Linked DNA regions of Homo sapiens: region 2 is linked to region 1. Evidence: fine-mapped expression QTL. Tissue or cell type: whole blood. Region 1 holds a variant in brackets; the other region holds the start of a gene. All regions are shown on one strand. Distances are from middle to middle.

The links. PIP is the estimated chance that this variant, and not a neighbour inherited with it, causes the effect.
Region 2: it holds the start of ATOH8, and the variant in region 1 is fine-mapped to the expression of ATOH8 in whole blood (GTEx, PIP 0.99).

The regions. Positions count from the first base shown.
Region 1 is chr2:85,470,442-85,478,685 of GRCh38, reverse strand. No RefSeq gene overlaps it. Among named protein-coding and RNA genes, the nearest start is that of SH2D6, 56 kb to the right of the region's middle. The variant A/G (reference allele first, on the strand shown) is at 3,758.
Region 2 is chr2:85,751,748-85,758,369 of GRCh38, reverse strand. ATOH8 (atonal bHLH transcription factor 8) reads right to left here and starts at 4,379. Exons shown (of 3, transcript NM_032827.7): 1 at 3,413-4,379. The coding sequence starts at 4,180.

The DNA of each region.
Region 1 (8,244 bases):
CGTGAGCCACCGCACCCGGCCTGTTTTCTTTCTAGAATACTTGCTGTTACATTCCTGACCCTCCAGGTAGGAAGTCTGACCACATCAAGGCCACCCTGCTGTGAGGATGCCTAAGTCACAGGGGCAGGCTGGGGAGAGAGACCCTGAGGTTTAGTCTCAGGTGAGTGCAGGCTTCGAGTTATTCCAGCCCAGACACCAGATTTGTGAGCAAGAAGTCTCCACATGACTCCAGCCCTGGCCATTTAAGTCACCCCCAGCCACCTGGGTTTCCCAACTGAGGCCCCAGGCAAGGTGGAGCAGAGCAAACCATACCTTCCATGCCCCGTTCAAGTTCCTCACCCACAGAGCCCATGGGTATAATAAAATGAGTGTTGTTTGGCGCCATTACATTTTGGAACACTTTGTCATGCAGCAATAGGTAGCTGGAACAATACCCAACAGAAACATGTACATAAATTCATCAACAGACAAACCTGAAAATATTCATAGCAGCGCTATTTATTAAACTGGTGACTACCCCAAACACCCATCAAACAGTGGAATGGATCCATAATTTGTGGTAATATTAACATGATGCAATACTAGACAGCAATAAGAATAAATAAATCACAGTCACACACAAAAATATGGATGATATATGTACATGAAAACACATAAATCATAGAGTACAGCTTGATAAAATTTCATGAAGTGATCACACCATGTGATCAAGAAACATAACATCAGCCATAACATAAGCCTTCTAGTCACTACTTCCTTCACGGGTAATCACTTTCCTGACTTCTAACATTATAGATTAGTTTTGATGGTTTTAAAATAATGTAGTTTTTAGCACACACAACAACCACACACAACAAGAGTTTCCTTGAAAACTGACTGGGCTCCCAAACTTTTTGCTTCCGCTTGGAACCAAGATTATTTGTTTTAACCCTAGAGACCCTCATCTGGCAGTTGCTGTCTCTGCTCTGCCCATCTGTCTCCTCTTCATATGCTGTTTGTTTGTTTGTTTGTTTGTTTGCTTGTTTGTTTTGAGACAAGGTCTCACTCTGTCACCTGGCTGGAATGCCATGGCACAATTTTGGCTCACTGCAATCTCTGCCTCCCAGGTTCAAGTGATTCTCCCACCTCAGCCTCCCAAGTAGCTGGGACTACAGGTGCCCACGACCATGCCTGGCTAATTTTTGTATTTTTTTTTAGTAGAAACGGGGTTTCACCATGTTGGCCAGGCTGATCTCGAACTCCTGACCCCAAGTGATCTACCTGCCTTGGCCTCCCAAAGTGCTGGGATTATAAGTGTGAGCCACCACGCTCGGCCATTCCCTTGACATACTGTATTCCATTGCTTCCAAGACACACTCTGCTTAAATTATTTATTGAATTATAACATCTTTACATGAAAGCCCACAAGCCATAGAGTACAGCTTGATAAATCTCAAGACTGCCAAAGAAATTTCAAGACTGGTCCGCCACAATCTGTGGCAGTTCAGCTCCCTAAAGCATACCCCAGGCCCTAAATCGGCACCAGCAGTAAACAGAGTGTAAACGCTGTGCAGCTCCAAGAAGCATACTTTCCATGCCCACTCAGATGTGGCCATGGGGCACAAGGGACAGGGAGGAACCTCAGAGAAGGCAGAGGCATGGCCACAAAGGATGATAGACTAGGTTGTTTCTCCCAGATGGGAGAACCTGGGGCTGCCAGATGGGCTACCAGGCAGCTTACCCCACTGCCAGTGGACAGGCAAGCTGGTTGGTTCTCTCTTTTAAGATGGTCTGGAGGAAGAGGGTAAAAGCCCTTGTCTCATGGGCCAGGTGTGGCGACTGGTCCCTGTAATCCCAGCACTTTGGGAGGCCTCAGCCAGAGGATTGCTGGAGTTCAAAGCCAGACTGGGCAACCTAGTGAGACCCTGTCCCTACAAAACAAACACACAAACAAACACAAACAAACAAACAACAGCTTCTCACTCAAGCTCTAGCTTATCTAACTCTCAGCCAATCAGTAACAAAAGATTCAAGAAGCCATTAACCCTTAATCACAAGCTCCTATTTCAGGGGGCTAGGGATTTCTCTGGGGCCCTGTATGTGCCGTTAGACTTAAACTACAACCTATAGTTACCTGTTTCTTATTTTAATGCTAAAAATAATGCCCAGGGGTAGAGATTTAAAATGCTAATGCTACATACAATGTATGAAGAAGCATGTTTAGCACTGCACAAGCACTAGAAAAATCCCTCCTCTACATGCCCTGACGTGACCCTTCCTTATAGAAAGACTAACCCACAGACTACCCTTGGGGAGGAGCCTGTGCCTTCTCCTTTCTTGTTGCTGGCTCCCTTGTGCACAAGCTAAAATAAACTTTTTCTTTGCTGCTGTGTCTGGTGATCTCTCTTTATTTCTATCCTGGGAGGATTACAAGAACCCAAGGTGCCAGTGACACCAGTGGCTAGAAGCCTCCACTCCTCCCCAGCTGGACTTGGTGCAGTGATAACTGCATGCTTCCCACTCCTCCGTTTGCCGAATGAGAGCTGTAATCATGTTAACCTATTCTTCTCAGTCCCTATTTTGGATGGATTGTCTTTTAGTTTATAAGTCACCAGCTCAGAAGACCTTTGTGCCACCCAAAGATACTGAACTTTGACCTATATGTAGTAACTAGATGGGAATTTTGAGGCTTCTTGGTTTTTTGTTGTTGGTGGTGGTGTGTGTTTGTTTGAGCTGGGGTCTTGCTCTGTCATCCAGGCTGGAATGCACTTGCTCTGTTGCCTAGGCTCCCAGGCTGGAATACAGTAGCATGATCATAGCTCACTAACTCCTGGGCTCAAGTGATCTTCTCATCTCAGTCTCCTGAGTAGCCAGGACTACAGGTGCATGCCAGCAAGCCCAGCTAATTTTTTAATTTTAATTTTTGTAAACATGGGGTCTCACTATGTTTCCCAAGCTGGTCTTGAACTCCTGGCCTCAGTGATCTTCCCGCTTAGGTCTCCAAAAGTGCTGGAATTACAGGCACGAGCTACCACACCTAGCTGTGCCTGGCCCATTTGAACAACTGTTAAGTGCACAGTTCAGTGGTTTAAATACATTCACATTGCTGTGCAACTATCACCATCATCTACCTCCAGAACTTTTTCATCTTTACCAACTGAAACTCTACCCATTAAAAAATAGCTGCCCGTTTCCCCTTCCCCATCTGTTGACAACGACCATTCTACTCTCTGTCCCTATGAATGTGTCTACTCTAGCTGTCTCATATAAATAGAATCATATAGCATTAGTCTTTTTGTGACTTGGCTTATCTACAGGGTTCATTCAGATTGTAGCACATGTCAGAATTTTGTTCCTTTTTATGGCTGAATAGTATTTGATTGTATGTATATACCACATTTTCTTTATCCACTCATCTGTGGAGGTACACTTGGGTTCCTTCCCTCTCTTGCACATTGTGAATAATGATGCTATGAATATATGAGTGTGTGATGTCTCTTTGAGTCCCTGCTCTCAATTCTTTTGATTATACCCAGAAATGTTTGTAGTTTTAAACCACTAAATTTTGGGGTAATTTTTTATGTTCCACCACAATAGGTAACTAATATAGTGGCAGATTTGAGAGCTATCACAAAGAAACAGAAACTATTCCCCCCACATTTTATTATGAAAATTTATGTATCATGCAACATTTTCTAATGCACAGAAAAGTTAAAATAACTTTTTAATTAACATCCATATACCACCACCCAGATTAAACTACTTTTAATAGTTTACA[A/G]TATTTCCTTTATAAATTAGGTTAAATCGGCCGGGCACAGTGGCTCATGCCTATAATCCCAGCACTTTGGGAGGCCGAGGTGGGTGGATCACCTGAGGTTGGGAGCTAAAGAGCAGCCTGACCAACATAGAGAAACCCTGTCTCTACTAAAAACACAGAATTCCCCGGGCATGGTGGTGCATGCCTGTAATCCCAGCTACTCGAGAGGCTGAGGCAAGAGAATCGCTTGAACCCAGGAGGCGGAGGTTGCAGTGAGCTGAGATCCTGCCATTGTACTCCAGCCTGGACAATAAGAGCGAAACTCCATCCCCCGCAAAAAAAAAAAAAAAAAAAAAAAAAATATATATATATATATATATATATAAATATAAATATATATATATATATAAATATAAATATATACATAATATATGTAGGCAACTTTCATGTGGTTCAATCTTGTTTCTTTCTATATTTTTTCTGAACCATTTGAAAATATGTTGAGAACTTCATATTACTTCACCCCAAAATACTTAGGCATCTCCTAAAAATCAGGATATTCTGATAATAAACACTATTATCACATCAAAGAAAATTACCCTTAAGTCACCTGAGAAAATTCCATAGTGAAACCTAATATATATACCATATTCACATTTCTATGGTGGTCCCTGAAATGTGTTCCATAGCTGAATTTTTGAACTAGGATTCAATCATGGTTTACACATTGTGCTTGGTTATTATGTCCCTTTGGTCTCACATACATTATTTATAAAAGAAGAATTCTCAGCCCTGTGTCCATGGTCGCCAGGGGATCACCAAAAGTCCTGAGAGCTAACAGATGTGTGTGTGTGTGTGTGTGTGTGTGTGTGTGTGTGTGTATAGATGTGCTTTTTTTCTGGAAAGACAACCCAAAGTGTTGCTTAGATTCTCTACGTAGCGTCCACCAAAGATTGAGCACTAGTGATGTAAAAGTCACAGATGATTGATTTGAAGAGGGAGAAAACCCAAACTCATGACTGAACAGTAGTCCACCAGGAGGCTGGATATGCAGGGAGTGATACAGCTTTAGACAAGTAATGAAATCTCTTTGTTCATCTCTAATTTGGGGACGGTAATATTTGTATATCAACCTCAGTGGAAAGATGCATGTGAAAAAATGTTGTACCATCAAAATCTATACCAACATTAGTTACTAAAACTACAGGGAATTCAAGTTCCTGAGACCTTTGCACATGGGCCTCTGCCCACATTGCAGTGAGAGAGAAGGTATGAAGTCTCAGGCTGGTTTCTTGGAGTTCCCCATTCTCTTCACACTCGGGGTGATGGAACCCAGAGACAAGACAAGGTCTGGGCTCATCTCTTGGGCAGGGTAACACCTGCATGTTCACACATCAGTTGCTCTTGTCTTGTCTGGCGGGGGCCCGATTGGCAGCTTGGCTAGACTCCTGCCTAGAAATGGGATGGAATGGGAATAGGCCAGGACTTGTCACTTACTCCCACTAGAGCCCTTTCTCCAAATCTTTATATTCCCTCTTTTACCATAGGTAGCTTGTGAAAGTTACTTCAATACCTTTCCTATGGAAAACAGTAATCTTAGTTTCCCATGCTTCTTCCAGAGGCCTTGGAGTATTGGGCATTTTGTAAGGAAATTTGTACCGAGGCAGGGCTGGGTATGGTGAAGGGGCTGGGATCAGGACCTAGGCTTCCTTGGCCAACTGTTTTAACCAAGTAAGGTAAGAATGATCAATACCAGGTGGCCTATGAAAACTGGAGGCCGCCCCCCACCCCACCAAAGATTTCAGTTGAGGAGAAAGAGCTATAAAGCCATATGAGCTATATTTTAATAAAACATGAGCTTTATAGATAATAAGCTTAGGAAGATTTAGTTGGGTGAATTCCTAATAATACTTCCTCCAAGTTCTACGCCAGCTTTTGTTCTCAAATGCCAGGTGTGAATTTCTCAATGTAATGTCTTTATGAAACATGGCAAGTTTAAACATAACCATTCCACTACTGCTCTCCTCTGAATTCTGTTTTATGTTTTCAGAATGGTTAAAAACAAAGGAAGAATCTTTAAAAAAGTGTTTGTTAATCTCTCAATAACTTTCTACTTAATAGCTAGGAACTCGACCAAGCTATGTGATCTTTATAAAACCTTAGACTACTTGAGAGCTGGTAAGAAGATAAAGTTCAACAGATGTGAGTTTGGATTAGCTGGTGACCTAAAGGTTGGTAAGCTATTTAACATCTCTAAGCCTTTCTGTCCTCACTTGTAAAGGGGAATACGAAATTTATTCAGTAAATACGTTTTGAATGCTTGCCACATACCAGGCCCTGTTGTAGGCACCAGGGATACAAGGATAAACAAGACGAGCTTCCCGCTCTCATGGAACTGATCACAGAACATGAATATTCAACAAGAAATTACATAATTAATTGTAGTTTATGCCAACTGCAATAACAGCACCTACCCCAGCAGACGTTGTGAGGATTAAATGAGTCAATGTGCAGTCAGACACATTCAAAACTGTTGTCATAATACTATTTATAAAATCACATGGGCAATAGAGTCTTGCTAACAGTCCTAAATAGTATAAATGCATGTTGGGTATTAGATCCTCTTTTGTTTTTCACATATATTTAAATGGCAACTTGGTTGTGGGTCCCTTATAACAAATAGGAAGGCATGCTTTCCCTTGATGTTGGAGACACGGTCTTACCAACCTAAGGAAGGATGAAGCTGAACTTGTTTATTGCTGTCAAAAAGAGCAGTTCAGGCTGGGGGTACTGGCTCACACCTGTAATTCCAGCACTCTGGGAGGCTGAGGAGAGTGGATCACATGAGGTCACAAGTTCGAGACCAGCCTGGCCAACATGGTGAAAATACAAAAAATTAGCTAGGCGTGGTGGCAGGCATCTGTAATCCCAGCTACTCCGGAGACTGAGGCAGGAGAATTGCTTGAACCCGGGAGGTGGAGGTTGCAGTGAGCCAAGATCGCGCCACTGCACTCCAGCCTGGGTGGATGACAAGAGCGAAACTCCATCTCAAAAAAAAAAAAAAAAAAAAAGAACAATTTAGCATTGCCATTAACTGGATCAGCAATGCCTAACCCGTAAGTCTTGAGTCCTAGGGGAGTGGGGGGTTAGGGCACAGAGTCTTTGCCAAATGTTCCTAAATCCTTACATGTCCTAAGTATTGTCTGTAGAATGAAAATATCTTTTGCCTACATATGGACATTGTCATAATCTATGTAGCTGCTGATGGGATGAATACAGTATAGCTTCCTTTAAATGAGTCACTGAAGTTTTACTGTGCCCAGCATTTTTTCATTATGTATTTTCTCAGTCAAATCTTATCCTGGGCAGGCTGCAGTGGCTCATACCTGTAATCCCAGTACTGTGGGAGGTAGAAGCAGGAGGATTGCTTGAGACCAGGAGTTTGAGACTAGACTGGGCACTCAGTGAGACCCTATCTTTACAAAACAATATTAATAAAAAATAAACCAGACGTGGGGGCATGCACCTGTGGTCCCAGCTATTCGAGAAGCTGAGGCTGGAGGATCACTTGAGCCCAGGAGGCAGAGGCTGCAGTGAGCTACGATTGCACCACTGCACTTCAGCCTGGGTGACCGAGCAAGACTCTATCAGAAAAAAAAAAAAATTATCCTGCCTTTTCCTGGCTGAAACCCTTTAACAGTTCCTCATTTGTCTCAGGATAAAGTCCAAATTCCCTCCCAGGCACAACAAGACTCTGTTGACCTTTCCTGGCATAGTGCCTGCCCCACCTCCCTCCCACCCCCATCCCACCCCCATCCATCAAGTTCTGACATGAAGCCTCTTCCAGGCCGTGGCATAGAGCCCTGGGGCCCAATTCACATATGCGGGCATCAACAGACCCAGAGCTCCTGAATAGGAGAAATACCCACAGCTCTAGCAGGTGTCATGCCAGCTGAGGTGGCACCAGTCCACTGGGGCACCGGATGCGGGTGGGCCTCCCCTCACAGTAACTTCTTCCTCCAGTTGCCGTTGTATCAACCCTGCCTCGCCGCTGCCCCACCACCACTCCACAAGCCAGTTTCTGAATTAAAGCCATTTTCCTTTCAGGGGTTTTAAAAATAAGCAATCCTGGAAGTAATAAAGCTTCTTGATTATCAGTTTTCCATGGACTCGCTTTCTTCAGTGTTATTTGGAAACCCAAGGTCCATAATGCCAGTGCCTTCACAGGCTGTGTATGTGAATTATTTACCCCCTGGAGAAAGTCATAGACAGCTGCAGCGAGGGAGTGATAAAAGTATTTTTTGGCCGGGCACGGTGGCTCACACCTGTGATTCCAGCACTTTGGGAGGCCAAGATGGGCGGATCACCTGAGATCAGGAGTTCGAGACCAGCCTGGCCAACATGGCAAAACCCTGTCTCTACTAACGATACAAAAATTAGCCGGGCATGGTGGCAGGCACCTGTAATCCCAGCTCCTTGGGAGTCTGAGATAGGAGAATCGCTTGAAC
Region 2 (6,622 bases), 280 kb before region 1:
GCCACGTGCAGTGGCAAAAGACCGGGACAACTTACATAAGCTCTCTGAAACTCAGTGTCACCATCTGTGAAACAGGGCAGGGGGTGCAATAATATCTATTTCATTAAATGAACTAATACACATAACAAGCTTAGCACCATGCCTGGCACAAAGTAAGCATGTGATGAATGCTAATTTCTGTGACAGTTATTAAAACAATTAAAGAATTCTTATTGCTTCATCTGTCGAGAGCCTTGCCCAGCCCTGAGGACCTTGGAGATGCTTAAGAAATGTTCAGTGCTCTGGCTGTGCACAGTGGCTCATGCCCGTAATCCTAGCACTTTGGGAGACAGAGGTGGGTGGATCACCTCAGCCCAGGAGTTCGAGGCCAGCCTGGGCAACATGGTGAAACCCCCATCCCTACTAAAATACAAAAAATTACCCAGGTGTGGTGGTGCGCACCTGTAATCCCAGCTACTCGGGAGGCTGAGGCAGAAGAATCACTTGAACCTGGGAGGTGGAGTTTGCAGTGAGCTGAGATCACACCACTGTACTCCAGCCTGGTCAACAGAAAGAGACTCTGTCTCAAAAAAAAAAAAAAAAATGAAATGAAAGAAATGTTCACTGCTCTTATAGGCCTCCTACCTTTCCTCACTTTCTCTTCTCAACACTGGATGAGGTCAGCAATATTACCATTTTACAACTTCAGCAACTGAGGCCCAGAAAGGGTCAGTGACTTGTCCACAGCCACACAGAAGGCATGCAGGGGAGGAACAACTCAATGCCTGGCCTCCAGTTTCCCAGATCAGTGCTTCTTTCATGGTACCAGGAAGCTGCTCAGGAGAATGAAGCCCCAGGCCAGAGCCACAATCCCAGAACCCATCTCAGTGCCACACTGGCCAAGGCCCCATTTCAGGCGGAGCTGATCTGCCTTTTGTCCATTTCCAAGGACCCATTTCAGTCAGGCCCGAGCCTAGCTCCAGAGCTGCAGCTCGTCTGGATTCGGGGAGGGGGTGCGGAGTACATTTTACAGAGAAGACTGAGGCCCAGAGGAGGAAGGGGCTCCTCCAGAACACAGGACTTCCTCTATCGAATGGGTGCCATGGTGGTGAGGAGGACATGGTGGGTGTGGCCTTGGCCCCTGGTTCTATGACCAGAAACGTCCTGGCTGTATTTCTTTCCTTCCCAGCTAACAGGCAGGTGCCCACTATGGCCTGGCAGCCTTTCTGGGGAAGGGGCAGAATGGCTAGGGCAAGGAGGAAACAAACAGGAACAGGTGCTTCTGTGACCATGCATTTGTGTGTGCTCTTGAGCACGTGTAAGGAGCATGTGTGTGTGTACCTGCCTGTGTGTTTGCATTGCATACACACGCTCTCCCTGAGAGGGCATGGGTGTGCCTTCTACTTAGATACACTGAACTTGCCCTTTTTATAGAGAACTTCCCACGGTAAGGGGGGAAGTAAAAGGAGACCAGGATGAACAATCTCATCTCAAAGGGTCTGCCAAGTGTGCACCCTGCCTTGATTGTTAACAAACATCACAGGCTGGGGGCTGGGGGGGTGGCACATGACGCTGATACAGATGGCACTGTGGGAAGCATTTGGCCAGGAGGGCATTCCAGAAACTGCTGTTATCTTCCCTAACCCACTAGGTGACCTTGGACAAGTCTCCTTCCATCTCTGGGCCTCAGTGTTCCATACTATAAAATGAGTTAATCCAATTTCGACAGGGATTATGTTTAGATCAAATGAGATGGAATTGATTGTTGAATGAAGTAAAAGTCAGTGGGCACATGAGATGTAACAAAGCACTCAGATGAGTATTCTCTCAGCATACAGAGGCAATAGAGGAGCACAAGGGCCCAGAACCTGCAGTCAAAGCCCCTAGGTGCCAGCCCTGACCTGCTACTCAACAGCTATGAGGCTCTGGGCACGTGCCTCCCCAGTCTAGGAGGGGCTTCCCTAGTGGCAAGGTGGGCAGGTGGACAGGCATCTCTCTGCCCTTCTGTTATCCTTCTGTCCTGGGGAGTGGGTTGCAGGATCCCCCACGCACCGCCACCTCTACCCAGCGATGCAGACACAGAGCTGCTGGCTCAGGGTGGGACTGACTGCTCCACTGGACCCACCGCCCAGGGTTCCAGCTGGTGTGGATGAGGGCAGAGGCCCAGCCTGGTCTGTGACAGCCACCCGTCCCCCACCCCCACCCCCACCCCACCTCACTGACCACTTTCCCCAAGCCCAAGCAAGACACTTTGGCTCAAAAGTCATAGGGCCTCTTTCCTCCAAGGATTCAATTTCCTTTCCATGGATGGACACAGGCACTACTGCCCCACCCCACCCCAACCCCCAGCAGGAAGAGGAGAGTGATCCAAAAAGAAGATCATGGTTTCTGAAATGTTTTGTTGCTGGATAAAGCCCAGAGAAGTTGAGCAACATTCCTGGAGTCACACAGCAAGTCAGCTGCAGAGTATGCAAATAAAAAGAAAAAAAAAACACCCTTCAAACCAGCCACATCTACCCTAACCCTTCCCCACGCCCTGTGTGGGGGTGGGAGAGAACTCACCACCTCCTTCCTAGAGCTCCTTCTCGCTAAGAAAATAAGAAGCCTAGAAGCCCAAGCGATTGTCCCGCCCCACCACGGGTAATTCTTGGGTTAAGTATTCTTCCGCTACCTGCGCAGGGGCACTGTCTGGTGAGGGCAGCCCGCACCAGCCCCAAACTAAAAAGTCCCGGACCCACCCCAGAACTAGGCTCTGAAGATGCTCCAGAGGGAATCCCCAACCTAGGCAGTCCCCTCGGCAGAGCTGCCTGCTTCACCACGGGTGAAAGGAAGGGATCTGCTAGAAAGACTCCCACCAGCCGATTCCTGAGCCCACCCCTGGGGAGAGGGCACAGGCTTGTAGCGCGGGTTCTTGAGGATGCCAGGGCAAGGAGTGCATAGCCCGGAAGCAACCTGAGTGTTCGGGGCATCACCGCTGGGGCCTGAAGAGGGGCTGACAACTCCCCCGGACTGTCCCACCGCAGCGTTCCGGACCTTGCCACCACCAACTGGAGAAGGCTCCCCCCTTCCTCCGCTGACAGATTCCCACATTTCCCCTCTCCACTCCGCACCGCGCCCAGGGGACTCCGGCAGGCAAATACTCGCTGCCATAAAAGTGAACTATGGAGGCTGAAGTCAGAAGCGCAGACAGCGTTACCCCCGAGGCGGGGGTTGAGGGCGGGGGGTGCTCGGGCCAGAGATAACCAACTCTTATAGCCACTTTGAAAACTATGATCCATACCCTAGGACTGCCCACACCTGTCTGGGCACCAGGGTCGGACCGGGCGGGGCAGCTTGCCCCTTAAACACACCTCTATCCCGCCCCGGCCACTCGCCCACCCATTCCCGCAGTCGTCCCCCGGCGCAGTGAGGGCGTGCGGCGGCGAGCGGGTACCTGCTTCCTGAGCGCCTCGAAGGCTGCGCTGATGGTGTGCACCCGCGTCCGCTCCCTGGCGTTCGCCAGGAGCCTCCGGGTCTGCTGCAGGGCTTTGATCTCGGAGGAGGCGGCAGTCGCTTCGCCCGGTCGTTTCCTAGGCGACGCGGAGGAATCCTGGTGGTTATTGTAAATTACGTGTGAAATTGACGAGTAGGAACTTTCCCCGGGGCGCGTCGGGGGCGCAGGGCGCACAGTGGACTCCGGGGGCGCTGGCGGTGCTGGGGGTGCTGACGGCGCGGGGCGCGCGGGCGGTGCGCACAGCAAGATGCGAGGACGCAGACCCGGCTCCCGGAAAGGCTGTGCCTCTGGGCCCCCAGGTGCCTGGCTCTGGGGCGCAGGAGGCGGCGGCGGCGGCGGCGTGGGGAGTCCTGGCCCCACTGCGCCTAGGGCGAAGCAGCGTTTCCGCGCGTCGGAGACCTCGGGCGCCCGAGAGCCCCCGCGCTCCCCGGCTGTGTCCGTGCCCCCTCTTGGGGGAACGGCCGGCGCCACTGGGACTGGCACCGGCACCGGTACCGGGACCGGCTGCAGCCGATGGGTCCTGTCCCGCAGCCCGTTGGTGGCTACGGCGCGGGGCTCGGGCGCTTCCAAGTCCAGTCGGAAAGTTTTATAGCCGTTCGCGCGCCGCGCCGGCTCCTTGCCTTTCCGCTTGAGCTTCTTAAGGCCGTTCAGCTCCTTCACGCACACGGTCTTCCACGGCCCGTCCTCGAGGACCGGGATGTGCTTCATGGCGCGGGCGGCGCGCGAGGCAGGGGCGTGGGGCTGCCCGGGCCGCCGCCGCGCTCAGCGCCGAGGAGTCTCTGGCTCTCCCGCTTCGCCCGCCCTCCCCCTCCCTCTCTCCCTTTCTCCCCCTCGCCCCGGGCAGCTGCGCCGCCGGCTTCGGGAAGCCGCCGGGCTGTCCGTTCCCGGAGCGCTCAGAGTGTCATCTGAAGTCGCTGCCTCCTTGCCAGCATTTCTGGAGAACGCCCGCTGCGCTCCATCTGTGTTTGTTTAGCCTCAGTTTACACAGAAGCCCAGTTCGCGAGATCAGTCAGCGCCGCCGCCCGGAGAGGAGGCAGCTCCCGCCGCCACCGCCTCCCCAGCCCGGGCCGCCCGAGCCGCGAGCGCCTTTAAAGAAACAGGAAGCATTTTTCAAAACAGCTGGGCCGCCGGCCGCCTCCTTTGTCCGCGGGCTCCCTACCTCCCCCCCACCCCCATCCCCTTGGCCCAGAACCTGCCTCCTCCGGCGCTCCCTCCCCGCCCCTACTCTAGTCGGGGGCGCTTCTATGTTCCCAGAGGACAGTCCGCTCCTGCACAACCGCCCCGAGCACGTGACTTATGGGCCCCCGGCCCTTCCCCAAATCACAGCGGGGCCTTTTCTCCCTGGCCTTGCCGGCCTCTCGGTGACGCAGCTCCGACCTTGCCCACCCGGCACCTTCCCGCCGCTCCCTCCGCCCCAACTCGCCACGAGACAGAAAACGCCGGGAGCTGGGACTTCTGCTGGGGGCCGATGGGGAAGGGGAGACTCCGGAGTTGCCCGGCGACCCACACCCGCCCGGCACGGCAACCCAGTCCACTCTCACTTGCTGGAGCGGGAAAGCAAGAGGAGCAGAGGGCTTAAGACAGGGAAACTGAGTTTCCGAAAGCTCCAAAGTCACGCAGCAAGTCACAGAGGCAGAGGAGGGTGGAAGCTTCGGATTTAGGCAGACCTAACGTCTGCGAGCCTCCGCAGTCACCTCACTCCAGGCGCCCTGCTAAACCGGGATTTACTCATCTGTGAAATGAGAAATTCGGAGAACAACGCCTAAGTCACAGCATTGCTCTGAGGAATTAAAGCACTAGGCACATAGGAACGGGTCGTCAAATGGTAGCTGTGGTTGTTGTTAGTATTATTTATTGAGGCAAAACAGCTACTTGAGGCAGATTTCCTGGGCTCAAACCCCAGCTCTGCCACTCACTGAATGACCTTGGGAAAGTCACTTAACCTCTCTGTGCCTCCCTTTCCTCACCTGTAAAACGAGGGTCATAATCGTACCTTCCTCCCCAGGCGGTGTGAAAAGCGTGTATGCGCAAGGCACTCAGAGCAGTGCCTGGCACCAGGTGAGAGCTTTGCAGGTGCCCACGGTTATTGGCAAGGGGCAGAGGTAGACCCCCCAGACCCTCAGTCATCAGTGCCATTCCACTGGAGATTCTGGAAAGAAGGGGTCAAACTAGTAGGCCCTCAGATGTCCTTGCCAGAGGACTGCTTCCCAGCCGCTCCCTTCCGAGGCTCAGAACAGGGCTTCACTCCTTGCTGGTCCCTTCTCTGTGACTGTTACTCCTTAAGGAAGGTGGACACTAAAAGCCAGCAAGGTGGTTTGGGAGAAGATGGACCCTTGACCCTGGCCTTGAACTCTGATGAAAACACAAGGGCTCACACAGAGTGGAGTGCTTCTCTCCTCCATGGGAGAATGCCTAGGGGTGGAGGAGGCAGATGGCACGCAGGGTGCTGGGAGGTGGGATGGGGATCTGGGCATAGCTTTGGGGGCAGGAGCATGGAGCTCCAGCCAGCAGCCCCGGTTGAGCCTTGGTTTGTCAACGACGGAACCCCATGACCACGAGCAAGACGTTTCCTCCCACCGTCACTCTTTTCTGTCTTTGAGGATATTTCCAGCCAACCTTCTCAGGGTAGCTGGGAAAGGACAAAGAGATGGATGTCAAAGGACTTTGACATAAGACTTCAAACATAGACACACACACACACACACACTGAGGCATGCAGTTTTCTGAATATAGTAAATGCAAAATCTCATTTTGCCACCAAGGTGGGTGCCAGCATCATAAAGCATGTGCTCCCGGAGACATCGTCTTCCCTGGACACCTGCATATTCCTGCACCTTATCTCTGTCCTGGAGACCAGGTGTGTGCTGCCAAAGAGGAGCCCTCATTCTCCTGTCGTTTCCCTGCTCAGCCTCGAACCCTAAAGTTCTGGCCTTTGCTCCCAGGTCTCCCACGGCTCCCCTTTGCAACGCACACTCTTCCTCACCCTTCGATGAACAGCTCCGGTCCCCCTCCTCCCGCGAACCTTCCCTGCTCACCATAGCCTCCAATTGCTCTTGCTGGCCTGTGTGCATGCTTGCTCAAAAGTCCTGCTGCAACTTAGCCTCCACTGCAGCCCTGTTGGAACTCCTGGGCTTGTGCGTTCCTCAAAGG